Homo sapiens: one gene and its partners. The protein of the gene in region 1 interacts with the protein of each later gene in a pairwise test. Each region holds a gene or a part of one and is shown in the gene's direction. Other genes may lie near its edges. The genes, in order: NFU1, COIL, NOA1 and APOC4.

The links.
Region 2: the proteins of NFU1 (region 1) and COIL interact in binary tests that used the Homo sapiens proteins (3 or more experiments, as listed by UniProt).
Region 3: the proteins of NFU1 (region 1) and NOA1 interact in a two-hybrid assay, tested with the Homo sapiens proteins (one large-scale study listed by IntAct).
Region 4: the proteins of NFU1 (region 1) and APOC4 interact in binary tests that used the Homo sapiens proteins (3 or more experiments, as listed by UniProt).

The regions. Positions count from the first base shown.
Region 1 is NC_000002.12:69,394,526-69,399,765, reverse strand, and holds the end of NFU1 (NFU1 iron-sulfur cluster scaffold homolog, mitochondrial), read left to right. Parts: intron 1-3,475; coding exon 3,476-3,520; 3' UTR 3,521-3,640; downstream 3,641-5,240. UniProt on the Homo sapiens protein: Iron-sulfur cluster scaffold protein which can assemble [4Fe-4S] clusters and deliver them to target proteins.
Region 2 is NC_000017.11:56,943,538-56,948,467, reverse strand, and holds part of COIL (coilin), read left to right. Parts: intron 1-1,956; coding exon 1,957-2,026; intron 2,027-4,930. UniProt on the Homo sapiens protein: Component of nuclear coiled bodies, also known as Cajal bodies or CBs, which are involved in the modification and assembly of nucleoplasmic snRNPs.
Region 3 is NC_000004.12:56,967,116-56,972,045, reverse strand, and holds part of NOA1 (nitric oxide-associated protein 1), read left to right. Parts: intron 1-3,530; coding exon 3,531-3,662; intron 3,663-4,930. UniProt on the Homo sapiens protein: Involved in regulation of mitochondrial protein translation and respiration. Plays a role in mitochondria-mediated cell death. May act as a scaffolding protein or stabilizer of respiratory chain supercomplexes. Binds GTP.
Region 4 is NC_000019.10:44,939,996-44,945,492, forward strand, and holds the start of APOC4 (apolipoprotein C-IV precursor), read left to right. Parts: upstream 1-2,241; 5' UTR 2,242-2,282; coding exon 2,283-2,358; intron 2,359-4,753; coding exon 4,754-4,895; intron 4,896-5,144; coding exon 5,145-5,310; 3' UTR 5,311-5,497. UniProt on the Homo sapiens protein: May participate in lipoprotein metabolism.

The DNA.
Region 1 (5,240 bases):
GAGACTCAGAGGGCATATTGCTGCCCTGATTGCACAAAAATTATGAAAAAGGTTTAAAATGTAACACAGTGTTTTATAGATGAGATTTAGAAATCTTTAGTGGAAGAACTCTACTACATCATATTTACCAATTTTTTTTTTTTTTTTTTTGTAGAGACGGGGTCTTGCTATGTTGCCCAAGTTGGTCTTGAATTCCTGGCCTCAGGTGATCCTCCCAAAATGCTGGGATTAAGGATTAACACAACTGGCCTAATCTATGTATTCTTAAATATGCAAGCAAGAAGCCCATTAAGAAATCATAGTTTGTTGTTATACTGAGTAGAATTCTAGAGCTTTACGTGTAGCACAATATCAACATTTTTTTTTTTGCCAACATACCTAAGGAGTATAACACAGCACCTTGTCATCAGTAATAATGAGTCTCACTGCAGTGATTCTCAACCAAAAAGCATGGCCTTATGGAGAGAGATTATCAAGGAGTGAAGGGATGTGTGGAAATTAGAAATTTCCAACCCACAGAATTTCAGGTAATTCATTCTTTTTTTTTTTTTTTTTGGAGACAGAATCTTGTTCTGTTGCCCAGGCTGGAGTGCAGTGACACGCTATCTCGGCTCACTGCAACCTCCACCTCCCAGGTTGAAGCAGTTCCCATCCCTCAGCCTCATGAGTAGCTGGGATTACAGGCACATGCCACCATTTTTTGTATTTTGTATTTTAGTAGAGACGGGGTTTCATCATGTTGCCCAGGCTGATTTCAAACTCCTGAGCTCAGGCAATTTGCCCGCCTCGGCCTCCCAGAGTGCTAGGATTACAGGCATGAGCCACCGTGCCTGACCACCTCAGGTAATTCTGTGCCCTTAAGGGCTCCATTGGGAATCACTCATCCTTGGGTAGTATTAAAATTCATCTGTTCCACAGTGAGCAGGTCTATATAGACCTATCCCCAAAGTCTTAGGGAGCTGAGAGGCTGAAGACAGAGGCTGGCAAATCCAGTTGGTCAGAAAGAAACATTTAATAGGGACTGAGGAACAGAAGCCATTTATCGGGCAGCTGCAAGATGATGGATTCCTGCATTGTTACCCGCTAGACTCAGGGCTTATATACCAGGAGGAATGGGTATACATGCTTCAGAAGATATGTGTAGGACAATTGAAGTCAGCCCCTCTGGAAAAGGCAAGAATGCTATTTGCCTAATAGCCTATAATTTGCTTAAGGGCAAGATTTATGCTAAGTATGTGTTTGTTTAGGATAACATCAAGATTATTTTGACCTAAAGGCAGAATTAAGTAGAAAACTTAGAGGCATTCCTAGAACTGAGGGTAGTCAATGTGGCAGATTAGCATCCAAGATGGAGTTGCTTTAGCCTCCACACCATCGTTTTGGTCCAGTACATGACATCTTCTCTTTGAAGTTTTTATCCATCCCCCACTTGGAATTAAGTTCTTCTTTGACAGGTCCAAAGCTTCTGTTTTTGCTTTATGTTTATGTAGCTTTCTGTATCTGTTTTAGCTTTATGTTTACGTGGAAGCTCCCTAAGAGACTTGAAATCATATCCAAGTCTTTGTGTTCCTCTGCAACAACTAGCTGTGTGCCTTACAAATGTCCTATACATGCTTTGTATTAAGTATTTGGGAATATTATTCCAAATTAAGGAATAATTCTGCCTAAAATATGAGTTGGTTGACAAAATTTTTTGGATTGGGTATTGTTGAAATTGGATGTAAAATATTAATTTCTTGGGAATAAATACCAATTTTTACTCAACCAAAAAGACAGCCTATGAAAGAATTCTTTTTCTATTGATTGTCTCAGATCAGAGCCAGAATCTGGATTTTTTTTTTTTTTTTTTTTGAGACGTAGTTTCACTCTTGTTGCCCAGGCTGGAGTACAATGGCTTGATCTTGGCTCACTGCAGCCTCCACCTCCCGAGTTCAAATGATTCTCCTGCCTTAGCTTCCCAGGTAGCTGGGATTACAGGCGCGCGCCACCACGCCTGGCTAATTTTTATATTTTTAGTAGAGATGGGGGTTTCGCCATGTTGACCGGGCTGGTCTTGAACTCTTGACCTCAGGTGATCCACCTGCCTCAGCCTCCCAAAGTGCTGGGATTACAGGCATGAGCCACTGTGCCTGGCCTAGATTTTTTTTAAAAAAAAAAACCTTACTTTGTTCCATTATCATCTATATGCCTTAAAAAATTATGTTAGTTGATACTTTGGTGGATTGACTGAGGAACATTTTTATTCAATTGTCCAGGGTAGGGTGATGAATTGGCCTTCAGATTAGAAACTTGAATTGGCATCTAATTGTAGTAGGTGTGGTGAGGAGAAAAAAACATTCTTAGGTTTATGTAACTTTTTCCTTCTCCAATGGAGTTAGTCTGTTATCTTAGTAATACATTAACTCATGGAAAGATAATAGCTGTTGTAACATTTTCCTGAGGCTTAAAATGATCTTTTATCTCAGTAAGACTAAAATAATTAGTTCCTAATATGGTGGGGTTTTTTTGTTTTGTTTTGTTTTTCACTTTCCTTGGGGATTCATTTTAATAAAAATAAATGTTTTTAAAATAACAATTTGGTATAGCTTCACAGAATATATTTAAGTAAATAAGATGGTTTTGAAAAAAAGAAAAAGTCATTTACATTAGTCTTATGGCTAGAGAATACCAGTTAAATTGTTTTTTTTTTTTTGAGACGGAGTCTTGCTCTATCACCAAGCTGGAGTGCTCTATCACCAGGCACTAGGCTCACTGCAACCTCCACCTCCCCAGTTCATGCCATTCTCCTGCCTTAGTCTCCCGGGTACCTGGGACTACAGGCGCCCACCACCACGACCGGCTAATTTTTTGTATTTTTAGTAGAGACGGGGTTTCACTGTGTTAGCCAGGATGGTCTTGATCTTCTGCCCTCATGATCTGCCTGCCTCAGCCTCCCAAAGTGCTGGGATTACAGGCGTGAGCCACCGCGCCTGGCCCCAGTTAATTATTTATAGTCTTTTCTGCCCAGCTGAGACTCTGCTATGGGTAGCCTCTTTGAGACAAGGAGAAGTGATCAATGCTTTAATTAATTTCCAAATATTTAATTTGCTTTTATTTTATTTTATTTTTTTTTTGAGACAGAGTCTCGCTGTGTTGCCCACGCTGGAGTGCAGTGGCGCGATCTCGGCTCACTGCAAGCTCTGCTTCCCAGGTTCACGCCATCCTCCTGCCTCAGCCTCCCGAGTAGCTGGGACTACAGGCGCCCGCCTGGCTAATTTTTTGTATTTTCAGTAGAGATGGGGTTGCTTTTATGTTTTTAGGATACCGGGTTATGATTCAAACCTTGTTCTTTGGGGCTGTTGATAGATTTATTCTTACTGGCTTGTCATGCCTCATTATAGAGTGTATCAGGTAAAGAAGTAATATTAAAATCAGGAAAACAGCAAAATCTAATCATTTTCTTAATTCTTAAATTGTCTTTGTTTTTTGGTTTTAGGTTATGGATGATGAATCAGATGAAAAAGAAGCAAACTCACCTTAAAATAATCTGGATTTTCTTTGGGCATAACAGTCAGACTTGTTGATAATATATATCAAGTTTTTATTATTAATATGCTGAGGAACTTGAAGATTAATAAAATATGCTCTTCAGAGAATGATATATAAATATTGCATGTTTGCTTTACCTCATATGAGTTATTTATAACCTCTTGAATCATCTTCTGTACACGTGGATTTTATCCAAGGATATTTTTATTTTTGTCCCTCATTTCCCATGGCTCTTTCTTTGCATATGTGTGAAGGAGTTTAAAATACATTTCCCCCCATCTAATTTATTTACTTTTTTCCATACAGGAAGAAACAGAATGCTTTTTAGAATATTCTAAAATAGCTTTTTGTGAAATATCTAAAACTATTTTTACTGAAGTTTTTAGCTTAAGAAACAGCTAAACAAGTCTGTTTTAAAAATGGTATCTGGCTACTAGCCCCCAATTAAGTAGCAAAGAACTGCTTAAGACCAAAAAAAAGAAATCAAAAATGTCCGGGTATGGTGGCTAACGCCTATAATCCCAGCACTTTGGGAGGCCGAGGTGGGCAGATCACGAGGTCAGGAGTTTGAGACCAGCCTGAACAACATGGTGAAACCCCGTCTCCACTAAAAATACAAAAATTAGCCGGGCGCGGAGGCACGCGCCTGTAATCCCAGCTACTTAGGAGGCTGAGGCAGGAGAACTGCTTGAACCCGGGAGGCGGAGGTGGCAGTGAGCTGAGATCACGCCACTGCACTCCAGCCTGGGGGACGGAGCGAGACTCCATCTCAAAAAAAAAAAAAAAAAAAAAAAAAAAAAAGGTGAAAAACTTGAAAACTAACTCCCAGAATCTGGACACAGTTTCTATTGGTTAAGATGGAGATGGCCAAATTAGAAAAACTGCCTCAGCATGCCCAGCCTTTACCTTATCAATCAGAATTGCTGAAGAAAAGAGAAGAAGCTGCTTTGGTCCTCCCACTGGCTTCTGACTCAGAGATCCAAAATCTGTACCATGCCAGAAGTGTGCATCATTATTTTTGTACTCTAGGGGTACTGCTTTTTCAGGTAGCCAAAAGAGTGATTTAGCCTCCTCTCTCATTTTTCTACAGTAATTCAGAGACTGCAGTTAACAGAAAATACAGGGAAAGGAAAGATGGGAAAAATAGTTGTGATGCATTGCATCTCTGGAATTCTAGTCCCTCAAATTAAGGAGATTAAGATAGTGATGGAAACAGGAAGAACTCTAGCAGTTGTGAGTGCTGGGAATTGAAGTTTTTACTTTTATCCTTTGGTTCACTGAACCAAATAGTAGGGTTGGAGAATTCATTCCTTGAGATATCATGTATGAATTTAATTTAGACACTGGGAATTGCTTCATAAGCAAGGCAACTTAACCTGCCCTTTAGTTGAAGCTACAGGAAATTGACATCGTGGATGAGATGCCAGTAATGGCAGATCTTGTATGTGGCCATGAAATAAGTGGCTGAATTGGATGGAGGATTAGTTTATTAGAAGAGAGGAAATTGGCCTGGCGCAGTGGCTCATGCCTGTAATCCCAACACTTTGGGAGGCTGAGGTGGGTGGATCACTTGAGGTAAGGAATTCGAGACCAGCCTGGCCAATGGTGAAACCTTGTCTCTACTAAAAATACAACAATTAGCCAGGCAAGGTGGCATGTGCCTGTAATCCCAGCTACTCAGGAGGATGAGGCACGAAAATCCCTTGAACCTG
Region 2 (4,930 bases), on another chromosome or scaffold:
TTAAAATCTTTATAGAAACCTTTCCTCAAGGCTGGGCTTGGTGGCTCCCACCTGTAATCCCAGCACTTTGGGAGGCCAAGGTGGGTGGATCACGAGATCAGGAGATTGAGACCATCCTGGCTAACACAGTGAAACCCCGTCTCTAGTAAAAATACAAAAAAAAAAATTAGCGGGGCATGGTGGCGGGTGCCTGTAGTCCCAGCTACTCAGGAGGCTGAGGCAGGAGAATGGCGTGAACCCGGGAGGCAGAGCTTGCAGTTAGCTGAGATCACACCACTGCACTCCAGCCTGGGTAACAGAGCGAGACTCCATCTCAAAAAAAAAAAAAAAAAAAATCTTTCCTCAAAAGCAGGCTGGAAGAATCAGTTAATGAAGGGATCTGGTGGGTTAGTTCTAGGTCGTTGGTGTTTTGTTTTTTATCTTCTTAGGCACTTACTATCTCCTATGGATGAGGTGATCATGTAATTTATCACCTGAATCAGGATACTTGTGAGTCAAAGGGATGCTATTAATAGTTATGCTGGAAAGATGTACAGACCTGTCTTGAACAAACCAGGGTGTTTTGTCACCCTACCATAGAAAACATTTAATTGTGTGATATATGAGGAAATGGAAATGAATATTGTATTGATACATCCCACAACCTCTATAAATTGTAATTCTAGATGATACTGATTTTTAAAAATTGCTTATTAATGGCCAGGCACAGTGGCTCATGCCTGTAATCCCAGCACTTTGGGAGGCCAAGGTAGGTGAATCACTTGAGGTCAGGAGTTCGAGACCAGCCTGGCCAACATGGCAAAACCCCATCTCTACTAAAAATATAAAAATGAGCCTGGCATGGTGGCGTGCACCTGTAGCCCCAGCTACTCAGGAGACTGAGGCACAAGAATCACTTGAACGCAGTAGGTGGGGGTTGCAGTGAGCTGAGATCATGCCACTGCACTCCAGCCTGGGTGACAAAACGAGACTCTTAAAAAAAATTGCATATTAAATTGGTATTAGTTGTCATAGTTATTAATGTTGGAAGGTGTTTTGCCTACTTTAGTTGGCAAAATTTTTTGAAGATTTTTGAAATTGCTTTCAAAAACATTTTAAGAATGAAAATTGGTCCTACTTTTTTGCTTTGACCTCAAACGCAGTTATCCAGCTTGATCATCTGCTTTATTCATTAACCTTGTCTCCAAAAATTAAATTGGTTCAATTCTGTACTAAAAAATGTAGTCTCCCAAGCCCCTGATTCCCTGTTGAGTCTGGTTTTAAAAAAAACTGTTGACTGTGCTCAGAAATTCCAGGTAGAGGCAGGAGGAACTGGTTGCTTGGCCTCTCAGTATATACCCCCGGAGGCTACCATGTGTCTCCCCATCGCCCACGTGCATGGGCAGTGCATCCTCTTGATGCATTAGAAAATCAGCTCCCACAGCTGGAGACCTGGGAGAAGGAGAATTGGGATCTTAACAGTGATAAAGTGCCTTCTGGTTTCTCCTGGGGGGTTGTGATCACTGTTTTAGAAGGGTTCTAAAAGCATCAGGAACCGAGGCTGCACCATTAGGATATATCTAGTCTCTCCTGATGAATGCTGTGATGGTCAGTGCTCACTTGAATATATCAGCCTGGTGTGATTTTTTTCTCCTTTTCCCTTATTCAGTCACTTTTGGTTCCCTGGTGTAATCTTTACTTTCATCGAGTTATTTAAGATAGTGTCTGCCATTTATGATTTAAATGTTTTATTTTGCCTCTAAAGATATTTCTGTATATTCACATAAAGTGTTTATCAGTCCACCTGTTTTTATTTTCTCTATATGTGGATTTATTTCTAAATTTTTCAACTGAGATAAAATTCACATAACATAAAATTCAACATTTTAACCATTTTAAAGTCTACAATTCAGTGGTTTTTAGTATATTCACAGTGTTTTACATGTTGATTTTGACTTGGACTTTTATTTTTGAAAGGAAGGAAGAATATTAAGCCACAATCCAGAGACCCAGCAAGTAGATATAGAAATTCTTTCATCCTTACCTGGTGAGTCTTTTAGAAAATAATTTGAAAATGTAGGCTCTATCTACAGTGGTTTATAAATAGCTTTTATACACAGGAGATGTTCTCTTCCTTGGCCTCCATATAACTGGCGCTCCCCACTTCTTTCAGCACACTTTAGCCCTGGGGGCTCATAAGAGATGTTGGATATATTCCAAAGCTGTTGGGCTAGTTCTTATTACTGTAATTATATAATTTCATAAAAGATTATATGAACTGATGAAAATCGATTATAAAAAGAATTATTCCTAGGAAGCCTAAGTTGAATGCTGACTCAGGAAATGCTATGAAATTATGGATGAGTGGGTCAGCTATAAAAGATTGGGAGGAATTTTGTAAAAACTGAGGAAGATTCTGCACTTAGATTGCCTTGCAAATTTTTGCAATCTTGCCTTATTTAAGAAAAACCCAGGCTGGGCACGGTGGCTCACACCTGTAATCCCTGCACTTTGGGAGGCCAAGGTTGGTGGATCACTTGAGGTCAGGAGTTTGAGACCATCCTGGCCAACATGGTGAAACCCTGTCTCTACTAAAAATACAAAAATTAGCCGGGCGTCATGGCACACGCCTGTAATCCCACCTACTGGAAAGGTTGAGGCAGGAGAATCGCTTGAACCCGGGAGGTGGAGGTTGCAGTGAGCCGAGATAGTGCAACTGCCTTCCAGACTGAGTGACAGAGCAAGACTTAGTCTCAAAAAATATTTTAAAAACCCCCAAACTGTAAATTGTGGAAATTGCAGACAATACAATGGTATGGTTTATTAAAAAAAGAGCTCTATTCAGTGAACTCATAAGACCTACTCAGCTCTATTTCAAAAGATTGTCAAATGAATATACTTTTGTATATTAAGTCAAAACAAAATGTCTGAAGTGTGTGTATACATACACTTTCACATATCATTTTAAATGGTTGCTGGATTTATCTCTGATGAACCCCACCTGGTACTGGAACTGAATGCGTGGAATAAGAGGGCTTTTATAATATGTAGCTTAACTTGGGGTGTACTGTAGGGGTCCCTGGCCAGAGGGCAGGGGAGATTCCTTTTCCTTTAGAAGATCCTAAAGCAATTAATTGTTTTCCTTTTTTTTTTGACAGAGTCTCACTCTATCGCCCAGGCTGGAGTGTGGTGGCACAATCTTGGCTCACTGCAGCCTCCGCCTCCCAGGTTCAAGTGATTCTCATGCCTCAGCTTGCAGAGTAGTTGGGACTACAGGCACACACCACCATGTCCAGCTAATTTTTGTATTTTTAGTAGAGATGGATTTTGACATGTTGGCCAGGTTGGTCTTGAATTCTTGGCCTCAAGCAATCCACCTGCCTTGGCCTCCCAAAGTGCTGAGACTACAGGTGTGAGCCACTGTGCCCAGCCTGTTTTCTGTTTGTTTGTTTGTTTGTTTGTTTGTTTATTTTTGAGACGGAGTGTTGCTGTCGCCCAGGCTGGAGTGCAGTGGCGCTATCTTGGCTCACTGCAAGCTCTGCCTCCCAGGTTCGCACCATCCTCCTGCCTCAGCCTCCCGAGTAGCTGGAACTACAGGCGCTGGCCGCCATGCCCGGCTAATTTTTTGTATTTTTAGTAGAGACGGGGTTTTACCATGTTAGCCAGGATGGTCTCGATCTCCTGACCTCGTGATCCACCCACCTTGGCCTCCCAAAGTGTTGAGGTTACAGGCATGAACCACCGCACCTGGCCTTCTGTTTATTTTTAGATAAGGGATTGAATAAAAGATTCAGCTAACAGAAATCAGTCGAAAGAGTTTTTGAACAAAGTTCGTTTATGATATTAAGTAAATGTTTATATATAACTTACACTGGGTTCCTACCTTTCTTTTTTTTTTGAGATGGAGTCTCACTCTGTTGTCCAGGCTGGAGTGCAGTGGGCGATCTCGGCTCAGTGCAAGCTCCGCCTCCCGGGTTCACGCCATTCTCCTGCCTCAGCCTCCCGAGCAGCTGGGACTACAGGCACCCGCCACCACACCTGGCTAATTTTTTGTATTTTTAGTAGAGATGGGGTTTCACTGTGTTAGCCAGGACGGTCTCGATCTCCTGACCTCGTGATCCTCCCACCTCAGCCTCCCAAAGTGCTGGGATTACAGGCATGAGCCACCGTGCCTGGCCAGGTTTCCAACCTTTCTTCTGATGAGATTTCATTTATAGAAATCCCCTTTCTTAGGAACGGTGGACAGAAAAGTTTGTCCACTGTCAAATTCTGTGCATACAGCCTGATCAGTGCTTGTCAGGTGATTAATAGTGATGACATCCACTTAGAACTTTTCTTCTTTAGGGCATCAAGAAATGGCTTCGGGGGCGAAGGTGGGAGGATCACTTGAGCCCAGGAGTTCAAGACCAGCCTGGGCAGCATAGTGAGACTCTGTCGTAAAAAAAAAAAACAAAACATAGCTGAGTGTGGTGGTACATGCTTGTAGTCCTCGCTACTTGAGAGGCTGAGGTGGGAGGATCACTTGAGCCCAGGAGGTCGAGGCTGCAGTGAGTCATGATTGCGTCACTGCACTCCAGGCTGAGTGAGCAAGACCCTGTCTCAAAAGCAAAAAAGAAAGAAAGAAATGGATTTATCTGTTCTCTAATAGCAATGTCACTTGTCCTTGATGTGGTGGTTCTGATATACATATATTTCAGTTACCCTGGTTTAGTTAAGTAATACTAGTCCCCCAGCAACATTGCATATGTTAACTGTAAGTGCATGAAGTACTGCTAGCTCTTTAGTCCACATATCACTATATAACATAAATAACAGATACGCGTCATGATCCATTACCAGTCAAGTCAGTACTTTCAGAGTCCGTCAGTGACTGGTCACTGTGCATCTGTTATTCAGTTCACATACAGAGCAGAGCATGCAGTTGTGGTGCCTCCTTGTCTCTCACTTATAA
Region 3 (4,930 bases), on another chromosome or scaffold:
GAGGTAGTGGGCACCTGTAGTCCCAGCTACTCGGGAGGCTGAGGCAGGAGAATGGTGTGAACCCGGGAGGCGGAGCTTGCAGTGAGCTGAGATCGTGCCACTGCACTCCAGTCTGGGTGACAGAGCAAGACTCTGTCTCAAAAAAAAAAAAAAAAGAATAGCATTAACTCCACCTGTCTTGTCCCTATGCCTCTCTTTTATCCAATTGCTCATGGACAACTTTGGGCCTCATAGGTAACTTTGACTTTGTCTTGTTAAATTCAGCCTATATCTTACTCTGTTAAATATTCATTCAATCTCATTACTTTTTATATTTGCAGTTTGGATCTTCATTCAGATCATTGATTGACTCAAATGTGCATCCAGGATACAGCCTCACAACAGATTCATTAATCATTTCCTTCGAATCTGGTTACTGACCAGTTTCCGATTTTCTAATTATCTCTGTATCTCCCTACAAAACCACATTGGTTTCTTAGGTACTTTTCTTGGCCTCATCAGGAACACTTATAGTTACATTCTCAGAATTGTATTCTATTTGGTGTCCCCTGTCATTGAATCATACACACCTTTTAAATTTTATTGCTCTCCTGGAATAATTGCTCATGCCATCTTTTCTTCCTTAGCAGTCCAAAAGTTCAGAGCTGCTTTCTAATAATATTCTGTCACTTTAGCTTAATGAACTAATTCTTCCCCCACCATACTTTTTTTTTTTTTTTTTTTTTTTTTTGAGATGGAGTCTGACTCTCTTGCCCAGGCTGGAGTGCAGTGGCGCAATGATCTTGGCTCACTGCAACCTCTGCCGCCTGGGTTCAAGCGATTGTCCTGCCTCAGCCTCTCGAGTAGCTGGTATTAGAGGCATGTACCACCACACCCAGCTACTTTTTGTATTTTTAATAGAGACAGGGTTTCGCCATGTTGGCCAGGCTGGTCTCAAACCCCTCACCTCAGGTAATCCACCCACTTCAGCCTCCCAAAGTGCTAGGATTGTGGATGGGAGCCACTACGCCCAGACTAATTCTTCCCTTTCAGATGCTATTAGATCAGGCATAGCAGTTACTTCAGTCATATATCCTCTATTAAATAGTTGTGTCAGAAAGGCAAGAATTTGCAAAATACTCTAGACAGCAGAATGAGAACCCCAAATTTTTAGATATAAACGTCTGTCAGCACTGGTAGTTTGCTTCTCTGTTAGTTTACAGATAAACTTATTTGATGTCTTAAACCAGGGTTTCCCAGACTGAACCAAGGATCTCTGTTGTGAAATGAAAGTATTAAGACTCAGGCTGTGCACAGTGCCTCACACCTGTAGTCCCAGCACTTTGGGAGGCCGAGGTGGGAGGATTGCTTGAGCCCAGGAGTTTGAGACCAGCCTGGGCAACATGCCAAAACTGTATCTCTACTAAAAATACAAAAAATTAGCTGGGCATGGTGGTACATGCCTGTAATCCCAGCTATTGAGGAGGCTGAGGCACAAGAATCACTTGATACACTTATTGGGAGGCAGAGGTTGCAGTGAGCCGAGATCATGCCACTGCAGCCCAGCCTGGGCAACAGAGTGAAACCCTGTCTCAACAAAAAAGAGAGACAAGGTTTCCCCTGTTGCCCAGGCTGGAATGCAGTGGCGTGATCAAGTAACTTCAAAGTCCTGGGCTCAACCAATTCTCCCACTTCAGCCTCCCAAGTAGCTAGGGCCACAGGTACATACCACCATGCCCAACTAATTGTTTAGTTTTTGTAGAGACAGGACCTCGCTATGTTGCCCAGTCTGGTCTAGGCTGGAGTGCAGTGGTGGAATCTTGGCCCACTGTAACTTCTGCCTCCCTGGCTCAAGCAATCCTCCACCTCAGCCTCCAGGGTAGCTGGGAACTACAGACACACGCCACCCCAGCTAATTTTTGTATTTTTCATAGAGGTGAGGTTTTGCCGTGTTGCCCAGACTGGTCTCAAACTCCTGAGCTCAGCTGGGCACAATGGTGCATACCTGTAATCCCAGCACTTTGGAAGACCAAGGTAAGTGGATCACTTGAGGTCAGGAGTTCGAGACCAGCCTGGCCAACATGACAAAACCCCGTCTCTACTAAAAATACCAAAAAAATTAGCCAAGCATGGTGGCGCACGTCTGTAATCTCAGCTACTTGGGAGACTGAGACAGGAGAATTGCTTGAACCCGGGAGGCAGAAGTTGCAGTGAGCCAAGATCACACCATTGCACTCCAGCCTGGGTGACAGAGCAAGACTCCGTCTCAAAAAAAGAAAAAAACTCCTGAGCTCAAGTGATCTGCCTGCCGCTGCCTCTGAAAGTCCTGGGATTACAGGCATGAGCCACCATGGCTGACCTGCAAATGGCTTTTAATGTGCCTTTTCAAACACAAATAATGAAGAAAACTATCTGCAGCCCCCTTATTATTTTTTTGTGAGCTGCTATGTATCATTTCTATTTTTTATTTTCTTGTTATTCTCTTTTTTTCCTTTGAGACGGAGTCTTGCTCTATGGCCCAGGCTGGAGGGCAGTGGTGCAATCTCGGCTCACCACAACCTCCGCCTCCCGGATTCAAGTGATTCTCCTGCCTCAGCCTCCCGAGTAGCTGGGATTACAGGTGCACGCCACCACGCCCGGCTAATTTTGTATTTTTAATAGAGATGGGCTTTCTCCATGTTGTTCAGGCTGGTCTCAAACTCCTGACCTCAGGTGATCTGCCCGCCTTAGCCTCCCAAAGTGCTGGGATTACAGGCGTGAGCCACCGCGCCCAGCCTCTTGTTAAGAAAGAAGTTTACAAGTTTTGTGTCCAATTTGTACCTTCTTTATTCTTTTTTAACCAGATTTTGATTCCTTAAATCTTTGCAGAATCTTGTACTTCTGTCTTTCCTTTTCTATTTTTCTCTAGTCTCTCTAGGAACTTGTCATCCTTAGAAGGGATTTATTATAAATCATAGGGATAAATTATAAATCCTCTGTGTTATAAGCATAGGGGATTTATAACTTTTTCTCATTCTCTGCTGAATATTTGGGAGAAATAAGGAAATTGAAGACCAGAATTTAGAAAGAGGTTCTTCAGCCACTTTACTTGCTCCTAGAATGGGGTGACCATTTTGCATTTAATGCATGCATACTTACCACTAGGACATAAGGTCACGTATACCATTACTTTAAGCGGAAATTGCTACTGCCCACAAGCCTTGATAAGGAGAGCATATATTTTCTATCTTGGTATTGAATCAACATGTTTTCAGGTTCACATTAATTTTGACATTTAGGGAATGCTGCTGACATAGGAAAGTCTCATACACCTATAAAGTTATTTTGCCATTACTGTAGATTAAGTTGTAAAACAAGGGTAGAGCCATCAGATTGAAATTAATTTAGACAGGAAGAATCTATATAAATTTGATGCATAGCAAACTCTGACATAATTTGGTTTATTTTGAAGTCTGGCATATTTTTCATCACTTTTTATTTTACGGGTAAATCATAATATATCATATTTTCAATAAAAGTATTTTCTTAAAAATCTGCCATTTGCTTCACAGATTTTAAATCTTCTAACAGAAAAAGAAGTAAATATTGTTTTGCCAACACAGTCCATTGTTCCAAGAACTTTTGTGCTTAAACCAGGAATGGTTCTGTTTTTGGGTGCTATAGGCCGCATAGATTTCCTGCAGGTAAGAAAAGTCTGTACTATTAAAAAATGATTTTAAAATATTGGGATTCACTTTAAGGAAGCAGATGTATGAACACGACTGACAAAATGTTGATAACTAAGCCATGATTGTATTGGGTTTAATTTGTTTTTATGTTTAAAAATTTCTGTAATAAAAACTTGGGGATGGCTGGGCACAGTGGCTCACACCTGTAATTCCAGCACTGTGGGAGGCTGAGGCAGGCTGATCACTTGAGGCCAGGAGATCAAGACCCGCCTGGTCAACGTGGTGAAACCCCATCTCTACTAAAAATACAAAAATTAGCTGGGCGTGGTGGCACACACTTGTAATCCCAGCTACTAGAGAGGCTGAGGCAGGAAGATCACTTAAACCTGGGAGGCGGAGGCTGCAGTGAGCTGAAATTGCACCACTGCACTCCAGCCTGGGTGATGGGGCGAGACTCCATATCAAAAAAAAAAAAAAAACTTGGGGAAAAGAAATGCCCTACTCCCTCATCCCCCCAAAAAAGTGCTAGGTCTTGAAAACTTACGTTTTCAATTGAGTACCCTACACAGCTTGGCATTTAAGACAAGATACTATCCCTATTCTATGGGATAGAGTCAAACCTATGGGATAAAGTCAAACCTTTAGGTACAGGGTTATAGGCGTTAAATTAATTCCACACTTTGTATACCATGATATGTGTGTTTTTATGCATACACGTTTTTGTTTGGTATTCGTTTATATAGCATCTAGGGATTTTGGAGTGTCTATAGAATTGCTCTCCATTTTGCTAAAGTGAAGAGAAAAAGGAAAATGAAACATGGATATGGATATGTCCAACAACACAATACAACTGTGTGCCATTACTATAGCACATTTCTTGGGTTTTGTGTTTGCTCATACTTTGTTAGAAATTTTGCCTTACACACTTAGAACCCTTATATATTTCGTTTTGGGAGGTTGTTGGTTTTTTGCTTTTGGGGTTGGTTTTTTGTTTTTTTGTTTTTTTGTTTTTTTTTTTTGAAACAGCATCTCTCTCTGTTGCCCAGACTGGAGTGCAGTGGTACAGTCACGGCTCACTGTGGCCTCAACCTCCTGGGCTCCAATGATCATCCCACCCCAGCCCCGCAAGTAGTCGGGACTACAGGCACACATCACCACACCCAGCTAATTTTTGTATTTTTTATAGAGACAGGGTTTTGCCATGTTTCCCAGGCTGGTCTCAAACTTGAGCTCAAGGGATTCACCCACCTCGGCCTTCCAAAATGCTGGGATTATAGGCATGA
Region 4 (5,497 bases), on another chromosome or scaffold:
TCCTGCACAGTTGTTCAGGTTGTGGCCAAGGTTGCGTTTGCAGATTTGCCATGTAAAAATACAGGATGCTCAGTTACATTTGAATTTCAGATTAATAGCAAAAAAAACTTTTTGGTATAATTCTGAAATATTTCATGGGACATATTTATACTAAAACGTCATGCACTGTTGATTTGAAATTCAAATGTAATTGGGCCTCCTCTATTTCGTCTGGCAAGCGTAGACAAAAGAATCCAGTCCAGGCCAGGCGCAGTGGCTCAAGCCTGTAATCCCAGCACTTTGGGAGGCCGAGGCGGGCGGATCACGAGGTCAGGAGATCGAGACCATCCTGGCTAACACGGTGAAACCCCGTCTCTACTAAAAATACAAAAAATTAGCTGGGCGTGGTGGCGGGTGCCTGTAGTCCCAGCTACTCGGGAGGCTGAGGCAGGAGAATGGCGTGAACCTGGGAGGCGGAGCTTGCAGTGAGCCGAGATCGCGCCACAGCACTCCAGCCTGGGCGACAGAGCCAGACTCTGTCTCAAAAAAAAAAAAAAGAATCCAGTCCATAGTCCCCTGAGCCATGTGCCCTGGGGTGCAGCTGGGTCCTTCAGGAGAAAAATGCTCTATTTCTGGCACTGGGACCGAGCCTGATGTGGGTTTTTTGTTGGTTTTTGTTGTTGTTATTGTTTTTGAGACAAGGTCTCGCTCCACCACACCCGGCTAATTTTTGTATTTTTAGTAGAGACGGGGTTTCACTACGTTGGCCAGGCTGGTCTTGAACTCCTGACCTCAAGTGAGCCGCCTGCCTCGGCCTCCCAAAGTGCTGGGATTACAGGTGGGAGCCACCGCCCTGGCCCTGGGCCTGATGTTGATGACCTCCTACTATGTGCACCTGCAGCTCTCCTGCATAGGCCTCAGCCGTCCTGCATGAGGACACTGGGAGGCAGGTGCTCCCTATCAACCCCGTGTTACAGTTGAACAAACTGAGCCCCAGAAAAGAAAACGTATTTGCCCAGGTCACACGGTGAAGAAGTGAGGGATTCGAAGCCCAGGTCCATCTGAAGCCAGAGTCACCCAGAGGAGAAAGAGTTGGAATTGAGAACTCAAGGAATGCTTGGAAGTGATCGGGCTCGAGCCCACCTAGGAAGAAACAGAGGCTGGAGACATGAGACTGTGTTGCTATTTCCTCTCATCAACCCTTGGGCCCTATTGAGGCCCTACCACAAGCCTGGCCCTGCAGCCCAGTGACTAGGAGAAATTAGACACAAGATAATAATAACAGCAATGATCTTTTTTTTTTTTCTGAGACGGAGTCTTGCTCTTTCGCCCAGGCTGGACTGCAGTGGCGCGATCTCGGCTCAATGCAAGCTCCACCTCCCAGGTTCACGCCATTCTCCTGCCTCAGCCTCCCGAGTAGCTAGGACTACAGGCGCCTGCCACCACGCCTGGCTAATTTTTCATATTTTTAGTAGAGATGGGGTTTCACCGTGTTAGCCAAGATGGTCTCAATCTCCTGACCTCGTGATCCGCCTGCCTCGGCCTCCCAAAGTGTTGGGGTTACAGGCATGAGCCACCGCGCCTGGCCAACAGCAATGATCTTTGAGCACCTATATTGCCAGTCTCCACGGTAAGAGCTTTCTTCATTTTTTGTTTTGTTTTGTTTCAAGACAGAGTCTTGCTCTGTCACCCAGGCTGGAGTGCAGTGGTGTGATCGCGGCTCACTGCAGCCTTCACTTCCCGGGTTCAAGCCATTCTCCTGCCTCAGCCTCCCAAGTAGCTGGGATTACAGGCACGCATCACTACTTCTGGCTAATTTTTGTATTTTTAGTAGGGACAGGGTTTTTCACCATGTTGGCCAGGTTGGTCTCAAACTCCTGGCCTCATATGATCTGCCCACCTCGGCCTCCCAAAGTGCTGGGATTACAGGCGTGAGCCACTGCGCCTTTCTTTGTATTTGTTCAAGTAATATACTGAAATATGTACTGTGCCTCCCACTTTATGGAGGAGGAAACTGAGGCCAGCAAATGAGGCTGTCATGGGAGGTGGAGACAGGATTTGAACCTGCCTCAGTGCAGGAGGCTCAAGAGCCTCTGTCTTCTCTCAGGGCACTGTGTGGGAGGGTGAGAAGGAGGGAGGCCCACAGAGGCATGACCTCTGATTGCCACTGTCACCTGGGCCCTGCTCTCTGAAGTCTCTGCCAAGCGGGGAGGTGGCCGGGGGAGGGCCCTGCTCTGTGCAGCCTCCCCTCCCCCGGCCCGCAGAGTTGAGCACAGAGGGACAGAGGCACGGAACCCCCAGAAATGTCCCTCCTCAGAAACAGGCTCCAGGCCCTGCCTGCCCTGTGCCTCTGCGTGCTGGTCCTGGCCTGCATTGGGGGTGAGAAGAAGTGGGTGGAGGGATGTGGGGCCCACACCTGGTGGGTGTGAGTGTGGCTGTGTGTCCTGTGGCTCTGTAGCCACGTGAGACATGAGTACGGAGTGTGTGCGTTTCATGGCGTGCGTATGCATGTGCGTGTCGGGGAGTGTGTGTGTCGGTGGCTGAGAGTGAAGTGTGAATGTCACATTGGTACAAACTGGGATCATCTGTGTGTGTGCACGTGCGTGCGTGGAAGTGGGAGTATGCAGTCGTGGTAAAAAAGTGCATGTCTGTGTGCATATGTGTATTTGTGTGCACCTGTCTCTCTGTGGGGTATGTGTGTGCAAAATATTTGAGTGTGTGGACATGTGTGAGGGGGTGAGTGTGTGCTGGTGTGTACGTCTGTGTTTTGCATATGCATTTTTTTTTTTTTTTTTGAGACGGAGTCTCACTCTGTCACCCAGGCTGGAGTGCAGTGGTAGCAGTGGTGCGATCTTGGCTCACTGCATCATCCGCCTACCCGTTTCAAGGGATTCTCCTGCCTCAGTCTTCAGAGTATTTGGGACTACAGACACACGCCACCATGCCTGGCTAATTTTTTTTTTTTGAGACGGAGTCTCGCTCTGTTACCCAGGCTGGAGTGCAGTGGCGTGATCTTGGCTCACTGCAACGTCCGCCTCCCGGGTTCACGCCATTCTCCTGCCTCAGCCTCCCGAGTAGCTGGGACTACAGGAGCCCACCACCACGCCTGGCTAATTTTTTGTATTTTTACTAGAGACGGGGTTTCGCCGTGTTAGCCAGGATGGTCTCCATATCCTGACCTCGTGATCCGCCTGCCTCGGCCTTCCAAAGTGCTAGGATTATAGGCGTGAGCCACTGCGCCTGGCCAATGCCTGGCTAATTTTTTTATATTTTTGGTAGAGACAGGGTTTTGCCATGTTGCCCAGGCTGGTCTTGAAATCCTGACCTCAGGTGATCCGCCCGCCTTGGCCTCCCAAAGTGCTGGGATTACAGGCATGAGCCACCACGCCCGGCCATGTACTTTATGTTAAAATGGGATCATATTCTAGATCAGCATTATCCAGTAGAAATTTAAATTTTTAATACAGGGCCAGGCACGGTGGCTCATGCCTGTAATCCCAGCACTTTCGGAGGCCGAGGCGGGTGGATCGCAAGGTCAGGAGATTTGAGATCATCCTGGCTAACAGATGGGTAAAAACCCATCTCTACTAAAAATACAAAAAATTAGCCATGCATGGTGGCATGCGCCTGTAGTCCCAGCTACTCGGGAGGCTGAGGCCGGAGAATCACTTGAACCCGGGAGGCAGAGGTTGCAGTGAGCCGAGATCGCGCCACTGCATTCCAACCTGGGTGACAGAGCGAGACTCCGTCTGAAAAAAAAAAAAAATTTAACACGTATGTAGACAATGTGCAAGGCACCATTCCATGTGCATCGTATGTAGTAACTCTTAATTCTCACGATAACCCTGAGGTAGATATTATTACCCCGTTCTACAAAAGGAGAAACAGTCCTGGGGAGACAGGATAAGTCACCGGCCAAGGCACACAGCTAGCTACATGTGGCCCCCGCGTGACGGCTGGTCTCTGTAGGCGAGGCTTTGTCCAGATGCGTGGGTAGAAGGTCTGGCCCGGAAAGAGGAACTGACAGCAAGGCTAAGCCAATGTCTGCCCCTGGGGGCAGAAAGTCACCTCCTGCTCTCCCTCCACTGTCCACAGAGGTAGCTCAGACAGGGTGGGGGTCACAGGAGAACGAAGGGAGAAGGGGGTAGTTCCTGGGCAGCAAAATCAGGTGGTGAAGGGAGGCATCAGAGGATGGCAATTAGAGAGGCCATTAGAGGGGAACCACAGGCAGACAGGGTGACAGGAGGGACTACTGACACAAGGTGAAGAGATGGCCCAGCCGGACGGGGTGGCTCACATCTGTAATCCCAGCATTTTGGGAGCCCGAGGTGGGTGGATCACTTGAGGTCAGGAGTTCGAGGCCCCAACATGGCAAAACCCCATCTCTTCTAAAAATACAAAAATTAGCCGGGCATGATGGCAGATGCCTGTAATCCCTGCTACTCGGGAGGCTGAGGCAGGAAAATTGCCTGAATCCAGGAGGTGGAGGTTGCAATGAGACGAGATCATGACACTGCACTCCACCCTGGGCAACAGAGCAAGAGACTGACTCTGTCTCATAAAAAAAAAGAAAAAAGAAAAAAAAAAAGAGATGGCTGATGGTTAAAGAGGGGTTAGCGGTCAGGGGACACATAAGGGTAAAGGCAGGAGGCAAGAGGACTGGCAGGGGGCTGCCCCTGGGCCACCGGGAGCGACACAGGATGAGCATGGAGGGAAAGGGAGAAGGGGATTCTAGGGTCCCAGCCTACCCAAGTTGCCCTCTGGTTCCACCTAGCATGCCAGCCAGAGGCCCAGGAAGGAACCCTGAGCCCCCCACCAAAGCTAAAGATGAGTCGCTGGAGCCTGGTGAGGGGCAGGATGAAGGAGCTGCTGGAGACAGTGGTGAACAGGACCAGAGACGGGTGGCAATGGTTCTGGTGAGGGTGTGCTGGGCTGGGTGGTGGGAGGGGACTCCTGGGTCTGAGGGAGGAGGGGCTGGGGCCTGGACCCCTGAGTCTCAGGGAGGAGGAAAGGGTGGGAGTGGGGCTGTGACCCCTAGGTCTGGGAGGAGTGGAGGGTTAGAGCTGAGAGCAGGAACTCCTAGGTCACAGAGAGGAGCGGATAAATGGGGCAGAGAACACCTGGGGAGAGCTGGGGCCTCCACTGTGATGTCCTCTCTCCTGTAGGAGCCCGAGCACCTTCCGGGGCTTCATGCAGACCTACTATGACGACCACCTGAGGGACCTGGGTCCGCTCACCAAGGCCTGGTTCCTCGAATCCAAAGACAGCCTCTTGAAGAAGACCCACAGCCTGTGCCCCAGGCTTGTCTGTGGGGACAAGGACCAGGGTTAAAATGTTCATAAAAGCCAGGTGTGGTTGTGGCGGGTGCCTGTAGTCCCAGCTACTCAGGAGGCTGAGGTAGGATGATGGCTTGAGCCCAGGAGTTCGAGACCAGCCTGGGCAACACAGCGAGATCTCTTGGGGGTAAAACAAAAAGAAAAAAAAAAGTTCATACTTCTCCAATAAATAAAGTCTCACC